Regions from separate parts of the Homo sapiens genome. Here region 2 is linked to region 1. Evidence: fine-mapped expression QTL. A gene starts in region 1. The other region holds a variant in brackets. All regions are shown on one strand. Distances are between the middles of the regions.

Region 1 (5,367 bases):
TCAAGACCAGCCTGCGCAACATGGTGAAACCCTGTCTCTACTAAAAATACAAAAATCAGCCGGGGGTGGTGGCACACGCCTGTAATCCTGGCTACTCAGGAGGCTGAGGCAGGAGAATCACTTGAACCCAGGAGGCGGAGGTTGCAGTGAGCCTGGGTGACAGAGCGAGACTCCATCTCAAAAAAAAAAAAAAAAAAAAAAAAGAAAGTGCTTGGTTTCTGTAAAGTCTTACCTTGATCTTGAGTTACCGTTTGTCAAGTACTTACTGGGTAGATAGGTATTAGTATTCCCATTTTGCCAAAGAGGTCACTGAGGCTCAGGTAATGAGAGACAGAGCTGGGTCTCAAACCCAGCTCAGTTCAAGCCCAAAGCCCTGTGCTCAGAACTGCCCCACTGTCCCATCTCTCCAAATAAACAGTCCTTCTGTAGACTAGTCAATTGACCCATCTCACTCTAAGGTGGCTCCAGGATGGGAAAAAGGTTGGCAGCCCTAGCCCGACCTTTTTCGTTCCTATGCACTGCATTCTCAAAGCCTCGGCCCTGGCAGCCCAAACAGAGGCTCCAGAGGGAATGGGGTGGAGCCAGGGTGCAAGGGAGGGGTGGAGTGGGGGTGGGAGGGCTCAAGTCACCCAAGCTGGGGCTTGATCTAGCAAGAAATGACTAACTGGGTCCTACCTTCTCCTCCTCCCCCGCATCCCCCAGTCCAGTCAGTGGCCAGTTTTCACCAAGCACCTCCTAGCAGTACTTCCTCAGTATTATCTTTTCATCACAGCCACAAACCAGATTAGCTAAACTAATCATGTAGCCAACATAATTACAATGCCCTCCCCTCCTCCACCTTGGCACAGAGAAGAGGGAAAGCAGGTTATTTTTGCCCAAACTCCCTGCTCCTGTTGCTCCCCAGAGGTGCAGAATCCCATCCCCCGGCAGAAAAGGATCTGAGTTCCCACACTGACTTCCCCCTAGCACAGGGCTGAGCGTGATCCCCACCCAGGATAAAGGGGCTGAGTCTGGGCCCCCAGCCTCACTCCCCCATCTACAACAAAGAAAGAGGTGGTAGACTCTTCCCCTCCAAGCACTCTCGATCCCCGCCCCCCACAATCTTTCTCCCACCCCCAGGACTGAGAGAGAACCCAACTGTTGTATTCTCTCTCTGTTCCCCAACGAGGCTGGGCTCCAAATCCTGCAAAAAGACCACATTTCAGATTTTTTTTTTAAACCGGGGTACAAACCCTGATCAAGATCCCCAATTCTGGGTGGGGGGGGGCGGTCTCAGGAAATTGGGAGCAGGGAAGGCAGGGGGCCCGATGCAGCTCTGCCTGAGAGAGTCTAGCATTGAAGAAACCTTCCCCCAAAAAGCCTTCCTGCGGTCTCACTTTCCCTGTCAAATTCTTTCAGGAAAGCGGGTGGGAAAGGTCTGTGCAGGCCTCCAGAAAGCATGCACCTTCACAATTCAGAAATCAAATGGAAGGCAAGTCCCACAGCCTCATGCGCTTCTGCCTCAATAACCAGCCAGCTAAGTAATGTGGGGGATGGGGTAGAGGCAAAAAAAAAAAGACAAGAACAACCACTCCCCCCACCTTCCTCAGTTTGGCCCAGCCCTGCCCCACCCCCATTCCTGGGGAGGGGGCAGAGCTTGAGAGACAACCACTTACGCAGGCCTTGTCTGAGGGGGTGTGGTGGTCCCAGGAGGCAGGAAGAGAAGGAAGAAGCTGCTTCCCCTCTCAGCACTTTCCACCCCCCACCCCGGCCCCTACCTCAGGCCCCTGGGGCCCAGCGAACAGGATGAATGTGGGGGCAGGGAAGACAGGGTCGGAGCCCAGGCACCGGCCCAGGTTCAGCCAGGGGCCGGCTGGGGGAAGGGGTTTTGCACCAGGAAGGACCCCCTAAGCCTAAAGGAAGTTTTGGGCAAGGAGACGGGAAAACCCCCAGATAAAGCTGCTGTGAATACTTCCTCCTGCAAAGTTTGTTTTGGGTGATTTTTTCCAACAATAAGAGGTTAGAGAAGACGGGTCCTGTTCCCCTACCAACACTCTGGCAGCCACAGCTACTGGAAACTGGGCCAGGTGACCCTGAATTCTTCATCCGTGCACAGACCCCACCCCCCAGACCCCAGGGCGAGCCACGGGTGCCAGACACCAGCTGGACACTGAGCCGAGCCCTGCACCCCCCAGTCACTCCATCCCACCTCCGCTGAAGAAGCCAGAGCCGGGCTCCCACCGGCGTGGAGGGAGGCGCCGCAGGTAGTATCGACGAGGCTCTGGGAGCTGGAGGGCAGGGCCTCTGGACTCCGTGCGCTCACCTGCTCGGCAGGTGGGGCCAGAGTCGCTGGGAAAATGTGCGCTCGGCCCCCACAGTTGGGCAAGCTGGGCGCAAACAATAGGGCCCCACCCAGGCCTGGGGGAGTAGGGAGGGAGGGAAAGCGAGGATGACGCGTGGGGTGGGGTGAGGGTGGCCCCAAAGAGACCAGCGGCAGCAAGTTCCCCAAACGGTAAATTCCTGACTGCAGCGTGAGCCCTGGGACGCAGTCGAAGCAGAGCAAAGTCTCCCCCGCCAGCCCAGGGCGAGAGTCAGGGACGCGGCGTCGGGCGAGCTGCGCGGGCCCCGGGGGAGGCGCGACCCCGGAGGCACCTGTCCGGATCCCTCCCCGCCTTGCTCAGATCTCTGGTTCGCGGAGCTCCGAGGCGCGCTCGGCCCGAACCGCGCGACCCCCAAGTCGCCGCGCCCAGGACCCCAGCGCGCCCCCTGCCGCCGGTGCAGGGTGGCGCTCGATGGCACCGGCCCTCACCTGCCCAGGGACGGCTGGGACCGGCCCCGCGGCCGCTCGCCACCCCTCTGTCCCCAACGATACCTGCGCCCCCGATAGCCCGCACCTGAGTATGGGGCCTGACCGGGCCGGGTCGGGGTCGGGCCGGGGTGGGAGCCGGCGCGGACAGCGAACTGAGCTCGGCGTGGTCGGGCGGCGGCTGCTCCGGACTCTGGCCAAGGCAGCAACTCAGTAACCGAACAAAAGGCGAAGAGACCTGACAGCCAAGCCACGCCCCTCGCCACCTCGAAGCTCCGCCCCTGGGGGAGACGCCCACCCTCTGGTGCGAGCTCACTGGCTATCTCGCCTGACTGTCCCGTGGAGGGGCGGAGCCTCGCCTCCAGTCCTCTTCCACGGCCGCCTCTGTTTATCCGCTTGCCATTGGCCCCGGGGACTGCCAGTCGGCTCTAGGGATGGACTCTAACTTGAGGTCTCATCCTAACATTGCATCTATTGGCAGATAGAAAGTTACTTCCTCCTGATTGGACAAGGCTCTGTCAGTAAGACTAAGGAAAAAACCAATGGAAGGGATGGGGTGTGTCTTGCCCCACCCTTGCTCTGAGCAGGTGAGACTCATTACTCTCCCCTTCCCCCTACCTGTCCAACAGGTAAGTCATAGGGATACCAAGGGAAGGGACAGACGCCTTCACCGGCCAGCCAACTCAGCGTCAGGCATGATGCTTCTTTGGGCTTATTCATCCTTGCCCCAAAGTAGTAATCACATATTTGTATAGCATTTCATAGGCTTTGTGCTGGGGTGGGATTTTTTTCCCGAAAGATGGAGTACTCCTGGGATTTAGAATTAGAAGGCCAGGTTTGGTCTTCTCCCACTTGGTATGATTTTAGGCAAGTTACTTCACCCTGTTTCTCCTCTTCTGTAAACTGGATACATTAGCCATATCTACCTCACTGGAGTATGTGGGGATTAAATGAGGTCAGGTTTGTGAAAGCACTCAGAAACTGCTAAAGGTTAGAAATTTAAATTAACGGTATGTTTTTTTTTAATTATTGTGACAGCTCTGAAAAATAGTTAGGATGAGAAAACGACCCTCATTGTAAAGATGAAGAAACCGAAGTTCAGAGAAGTCACAAAACTACAAAGTGGCACACCCCAAGCTAGAACCTCCTTCCTCTCATTTGAAGGACCATCAAACCAGCTGTTCCCCTCATGGAAGAGGAGCATAGACATAAAATGTCAAGGCAATGGGGAAGGGGCAGAGAAAAGGCACAAACACTTGGAGGAGAGACAGAACAATTAATTGGCACAAAAATACAGTATTGGTGTCAGGAGGCTTTGGTGGGCTTGGAAACATCAAGCAGCAGATCTGAAGGAAATCCAGCCCTGGCATGAAAGAAACGGGGCAGGCCAGGCGCAGTGGCTCACTCCTGTAATCTCAGCATTTTGGGAGGCAAAGGCGGGTGGATCACCTGAGGTCGGGAGTTCAACACCAGCCTGGCCAATATGGTGAAGCCCCATCTCTACAAAAAATACAAAAAGTTAGCCGAGCGTGGTGGCGGGCAACTATAATCCCAGCTGCCTGGGAGACTGAGGCAGGAGAATTGCTTGAACCTGGGAGGCGGAGGTTGCAGTGAGCCGAGACCATGTCACTGCACTCCAGCCTGGGCATGACAGAGCGAGACTCCATCTCAAACAAAAAAAAAAAAAAGAAAAGAAAAAAATAAACCGGGCAGCACACCCCTCTGCGATAGGAGAGCCTGGGGTAGAGATCAGAGAGAACTTCTCGGCCAGGCGTGGTGGCTCATGCCTGTAATCCCAGCAATTTGGGAGGCCAAGGTGGGCAGATCACTTGAGGTCAGGAGTTCGAGACCAGCCTGGCCGACATGGTGAAACCCCATCTCTACTGAAAATACAGAAATTAGCCAGGCATGGCAGCGGGCACCTGTAATGCCAGCTACTCGGGAGGCTGAGGCAGGAGAATGGCGTGAACCCGGGAGGCAGAGGTTGCAGTGAGCTGAGATCATGCCATTGCACTCCAGCCTGGGTGACAGAGTGAGACTCTGTCTCAAAAAAATAAAAAGGACTTCTCACAGGCAGCTTAAGAAGACAAGGGCACTTCCTTTCTGTGGTTGATGACATGAATGCTGCTCGTGGCTGTATGGTGTGCCAAGGGCCCTACAAACATTCCTTCATTCAACACTTGAGTATTCATTGTCAACTGTATGTTAGGCACTGGTGAACACAGAAAATAAAACCTGGTGACACAGGAAATAAAAATGATCCCAACCTTCAAAGAGCTCATAGAAGGATAAGCAGAAGCAGCGTGTGTGGGTGGGTTTTGGAGGAGTGGTGGTTTAGAAAAGGGTCCCCCATCAACAAAGCTCTACAGCCCCAAAGCTAGCACACAGGATGGGCTGGATGAAGGTACCTTAGCAGCAACCTTGACCACTTTCCCCACCAGAGAAAAGAATGGTAGCTGAACATTCTCCCTTCTGAAGTTGCGCCATCCAAAAGCAGGGCCAGGGAGATACGGACATCCCTGAACTAGTGGCCATCCCATAACCAGGGCCACCGCCCTTTGCCTGTTTCCTCAACTCTCCAT
Region 2 (5,329 bases), 26 kb before region 1:
CAACACACCCCACAGCACTGCCCACCTCCACCCTGTAGCAATTCCATAGTGGAAAATGGGCCGTCACTGGGGAGTAAGTGTTACTGCTTTAAACTGGGCTGAGCATTGTTCATGAGCTACCTTGAAATTACCTGTGACTCTGCCTCATCTAACCATTGGAATCTAGTGTTAATGAGCTCACTGATGTGAAAGATGTTAGACTCTTCTTGTCTGTTATGGTACTTGCACATATTCTCCCAGTTTGCTGATTTTTTAAAAATGCTTTTTTAGGTTCTTTCTGAAATACAGATGGTTTTCATGTTTATATGGTTGAATCTCAAGTTTTTTTGTTTTTTGTTTTTTTTTTCCATTTGTGATCTCTTTCCTTGCTTTGAAGCTTAGAAAGCCATGCCCATGCAGGGGGTTGCTAAGTAGTCAATCTGGAGTGGCAACTTTCCTCCAAACTCCTCCAAAGACCTCTTGATACCTGGTCCAGGCCTCCCAAATCTGGGACTCCTAACCTTGCCCTTTAAGCAGTGGTGGGGGGACCTCTCCTGCCCACCTGCCCCAGACTCACCTGCACAAACAGGGGAATGGTGTTGAGCCGGAAGATCTCCATGCGGTTCATGGGGTCCCGGGCGAGGATGTGCAGTGCTCCGGTGCAGCCCTCCACAATCTCCTCCATCCTCACACCATCCTGTGTGAGAGGAGGCAGGGGGCATGGGACAGGTGCCTTGGACATGGCCACAACTCCTCCCCATGACAGCCGAATGAACTTCACAGGTTCTTGGAATTGGCATCAGTTGCAACTGACCTCCCCATTCACACACACACCCACAGAGGACACCCTGACCCCCCAGGAAGGCTGTCAGAGGCACCACCAGCTCACATACCGTGTAGGGCTGCTGTGTGCCTGCAGCTACGTGGCGCTGGGCATCCTGGTGGGCCTTCACCAGCAGTTGGACGAGGCGGGGGATGACCGCTGCCTCCTGCAGCGGGGCATGGTTGGCTGGGCACAGGGCCAGATTCCTGATCAAGCCGATGGTTGCCTGGCAAAAAAAGGGGCAGTGATCAGGGGCACTTCTTGGACATCTGAAGGATCCCAGCTTCCCAGCTTCAAGTATCCCTTCCCTCCTTCACCTCTTCTGTCCCCGAGGCCAGACACAGACATACTGGAAAATATCCAGAGAAGGAGACCATCCCAGCCATGTCACTTAATCCACAGGATCTGGGAGTGCTCATGGCTAATTCTTTTTTTTTTTTTTTTTTGAGACAGAGTTTCGCTCTTGTCACCCAGGCTGGAGTGCAGTGGTGCAATCTCACCTCACTGCAACCTCCACCTCCTGGGTTCAAGCGATTCTCCTGCCTCAGCCTCCTGAGTAGCTGCGATTACAGGTGCCTGCCACCATGCCCAGCTAATTTTTTGTATTTTTAGTAGAGACGGGGTTTCGCCATGTTGGGCAGGCTGGCCTCGAACCCCTGACCTCAGGTGATCCGCCTGCTTCTGCCTTCTAAAGTGCTGGGATTACAGGTGTGGGCTACCACGTCCGGCTGCTCATGGCTAATTCTAATAGCCCTTGCTAAAATGACACCCCATTCCAGAACATCCTGCCAGCCCCATGCCTGGCCCCTCACCCTGTCCCCTCTTTCTTAACCACCCCCCACAGACACCATGACCTTGCTTGCTTTTCTGATAGTCCTCCAAGCCTGATTCTCAGGAATTCTGTGCTCTAGGTGCCCCCGAAGCCTCCTGCTTGGGTGGTGCTCACATTGTCATTAATCCCCAGCAGGGCAGCTCTGGAAAGAGGTGTCCTGAGATCTCCTCCCCAGGGTCTTTGACTCAGAGGAGCCACTCTGGCCTCCCAGAGCCTCTCAAGGTGTCATCTATTTCATCCTCAAAACAAGACGCCAGGAGGACAGGGATGAAAATCATGTGAGATGGGGACGTGAGCACAGGGCAAATGACTTGCCAAAGTCACTTGCCACTTAGCTGCTGGGTTAGGATGCAAAGTCCCACCTCAGGTTTGCAGCAGGGACCAAGCATCAAGGAGGGGTCACAATGACATTTTTTTTTCTAAACATGAATTTTCTTTTTTTAATTCAATGTATAGGCCGGGCGCAGTGGCTCACGCCTGTAATCCTAGCACTTTGGGAGGCCAAGGCAGGCAGATCACTTTAGGTCAGGAGTTCGAGACCAGCCTGGCCAACATGGTGAAACCACGTCTCTACTAAAAATACAGAAATTAGCCGGGAATTGCTTGAACCTGGGAGGCGGAGGTTGCAGTGAGCTGAGATCATGCCACTGCACTCCAGCCTGGGCAACAGAGCAAGAATCTGTCTCAAAAATAATAATAATAATAAAAAATAATAATTCAATGTGTAGAATCACTTAGAGTCATTCTTATCTGCACTGGGTTTTTTTTGTTTGTTTGTTTTTTTGTTTGTTTTTTTTGAGACGGAGTCTCGCTCTGTCGCCCAGGCTGGAGTGCAGTGGCGCGATCTCAGCTCACTGCAAGCTCCGCCTCCCGGGTTCACACCATTCTCCTGCCTCAGCCTCCTGAGTAGCTGGGACCACAGGCGCCCGCCACCACGCCTGGCTAATTTCTTTGTATTTTTTTAGTAGAGATGGGGTTTCACCGTGTTAGCCAGGATGGTCTCGATCTCCTGACCTCGTGATCCACACGCCTCGGCCTCCCAAAGTGCTAGGATTACAGGCGTGAGCCACCACGCCTGGCCATGTTTTTTGTTTTTGTTTTCCAAGACGGAGTCTCTCTCTGTCACCCAGGCTGGAGTGCAATGAGCGATCTCAGCTCACTGCAACCTCTGCCTTCCGGGTTCAAGTAATTCTTCTGCCTCAGCCTTCCGAGTAGCTGAGATTACAGGCACATGCCACCATGGCCAGCTAATTTTTGTATTTTTTGTGGAGGCGGGGACTTACTATGTTGGCCAGGCTGGTCTCGAACTCCTAACTTCAGGTAATCCTCCCGCCCCGTCCTCCCAAAGTGCTGGGATTACAGGCGTGAGCCACTGCGCCTGGCCTGTCTGTACTATTAAATTGTCTTAAATGTAGCTGGCGGATGCCCCTGCCAGCTGGCTCCTGTGCCCGTTGACAAGACCCTCATCGATGGTAGCTTCCTCACTCTCTGGCACCAGATGCCACCTTGCCTTTGGCTGCCTTCCTTGTCTCTACATATAGATATACACACACACAAACGCTTTCCCCCATAACTCTGTCCCTTGGGTCTGCCCAC[A/C]CCCTGACCCACTCTCACTTCCCCCACCTGACAGGGAAGTGACACACAGCTAGCTCTCTTCCACCCAGGTAGCCTCAAGAAGAAGACCCCACTCCTTCACACACCCAACTCCCTATGGGAGATGCTAAGCGTCCCCAGAATCCTCTGTGCCCTGTGTCTCTGTAGTGGCTCTCCTGATTTTCAGCAGGACACACGGCCATCTGGCTGGTGATCACACTTCCTAACCTCCTTGCACCTTGATGTGGCTGAATGACCAAGTTCTGGGGTGTGAGCAGGAGTGATGTGTGCCACTTTCTGGTGGCCGCTAGCCATCCCCAGTTCTCAGGGCTAGAACACATCCGTGGGGATGATACAGTCCACTCATTCGTGTGAGGACAACCCTCTCGTCTACACCCAGTGGCATAAGAAATGTGCTCCATGGAGCAGCACCTGCGAGCTTGTTAAAAATACAGAATTGGGCCAGGTGCAGTGGCTCACACCTGTAATCCTAGCACTTTGGAAGGCCAAAGTGGGTGGATCACCAGAAGTCAGGAGTTCAAGACCAGCCTAACCAACATAGAGAAATCCCGTCTCTACTAAAAAATGCAGGAGAATCGCTTGAACCCGGGAGGCGGAGGTTGCAGTAAGCCGAGATCGCACCATTGCACTCCAGCCTGGGCAATAAGAGCAAAACTCCGTCTCAAAAAAAAAAAAAAAAAGAAGAAATACAGAATTGTCCGGGCCTGGTGTCTCACACCTGTAATCCCCGTACTTTGGGAGGCTGAGGCTGGTGGATCACTTGAGTTCAGGAGTTCAAGATCAGTCTGAGCAACATGGCAAAATCCCATCTCTACTAAAAATACAAAAATTATCCAGACATGGTGGCGTGCACCTGTAATCCCAACTACTCAGGAGGCCAAGGCAGGAGAATCACTTGAACCCGGGAAGCAGAGGTTGCAGTGAGCCAAGAATGTACCACTGCACTCCAGCCTGGGCAATAGACATTGTCTCAAAACAACAAAAAAAAGACATACAGAATGGCAAGCCCTCTGCAGCAGGCCTGCAGAGAGACAGAGAGAGAGAGAGAGAGAGAGAGAGAGAGAGAGAGAGAGAGAGAGAGAGAGAGTGTGTGTGTGTGTGTGTGTGTGTGTGTGTTTTAGATTGTTTATTTGTTTGGGCTTTTTTTTTTTTCCAAATTTTTTGTAAGAGATGGGTGTCTCACTATGTTACCCACGATGGTCTCAAACTCCTGGCCTCAAGTGATCCTTCCGCTTCCGCCTCTGCCTGCACCTCCCAAAGTGCTGGAACTACAGATGTGAGCCACTGCACCCAGCCTCCTGTTTTTCTTTTCTTTTAAGACACGGGTTCTTGCTCTGTCACCCAGGCTGGAGTGCACTGATGCAATCATAGCTCACTGTAACCTCCAACTCCTGTGCTCAAGCGATCCTCCGACCTGAGCCTCCCCTCCCCAGTAGCTGGGACCACAGGCGTGCACCACCACACCTGGCTAATTTCTGTTGTTGTTATTGTTGTCGAGACAGGTCTTGCTATGTTGTCCAGGCTGGTCTCAAATTCCTGGCCTCAAGCAATCCTCCTACCTTTGCCTCCCAAAGTGTTGGGATTACAGGCATGAGCCACCGTGCCTGGCCCTGGAACCTGCAATTTAATGAAACCACCCAGGGTACTCATGTGCATTTTGAACTCTGAGCTCTGCCCTAGGGGCTGGTAGAGCTACAAGATAGAAATCCCAATTCTGGAATTTTAGAGCAGAGCCATTGTTGAGGTCTAAACTATTACACGAGAGAGAAATAAACTTCTGTCTTATTCGAGCCACTGTATTTAGGGCTTCTTTGCTACAGCGGCTTTGCCTATACCAATACAGCACCTAAGCCTGCTGCAGGGAGCTCCTTCCCCTCGCCTAACAGCAGTACCTTGACCAGTGGCCACTGGTTGGGCTGGTTGAGCAGCTTCACGATGGCTGGGATGCCATAGTTGAGACGCACAGAGTTCTGGGCCATCTCGGCCTCAGGGTGGCGGCTAGTGAGGTGGCGCAGAGCGCAGACGGCAGGCTCCGTGATGTCGTCCTTGTCACCAGCACGCAGGATGGCATGGATGAGAGC

What was found. PIP is the estimated chance that this variant, and not a neighbour inherited with it, causes the effect.
Region 2: its variant is fine-mapped to the expression of JUP in whole blood (TOPMed, PIP above 0.99).

What each region holds. Positions count from the first base shown.
Region 1 is chr17:41,783,715-41,789,081 of GRCh38, forward strand. It overlaps JUP (junction plakoglobin), which reads right to left and starts at 2,997. Exons shown (of 14, transcript NM_002230.4): 1 at 2,874-2,997. RefSeq lists silencers at 2,289-2,501, 2,666-2,965.
Region 2 is chr17:41,757,843-41,763,171 of GRCh38, forward strand. It overlaps JUP (junction plakoglobin), which reads right to left. Exons shown (of 14, transcript NM_002230.4): 8 at 5,141-5,329; 9 at 873-1,028; 10 at 557-676. Among named protein-coding and RNA genes, the nearest start is that of HAP1, 26 kb to the left of the region's middle. The variant A/C (reference allele first, on the strand shown) is at 3,231.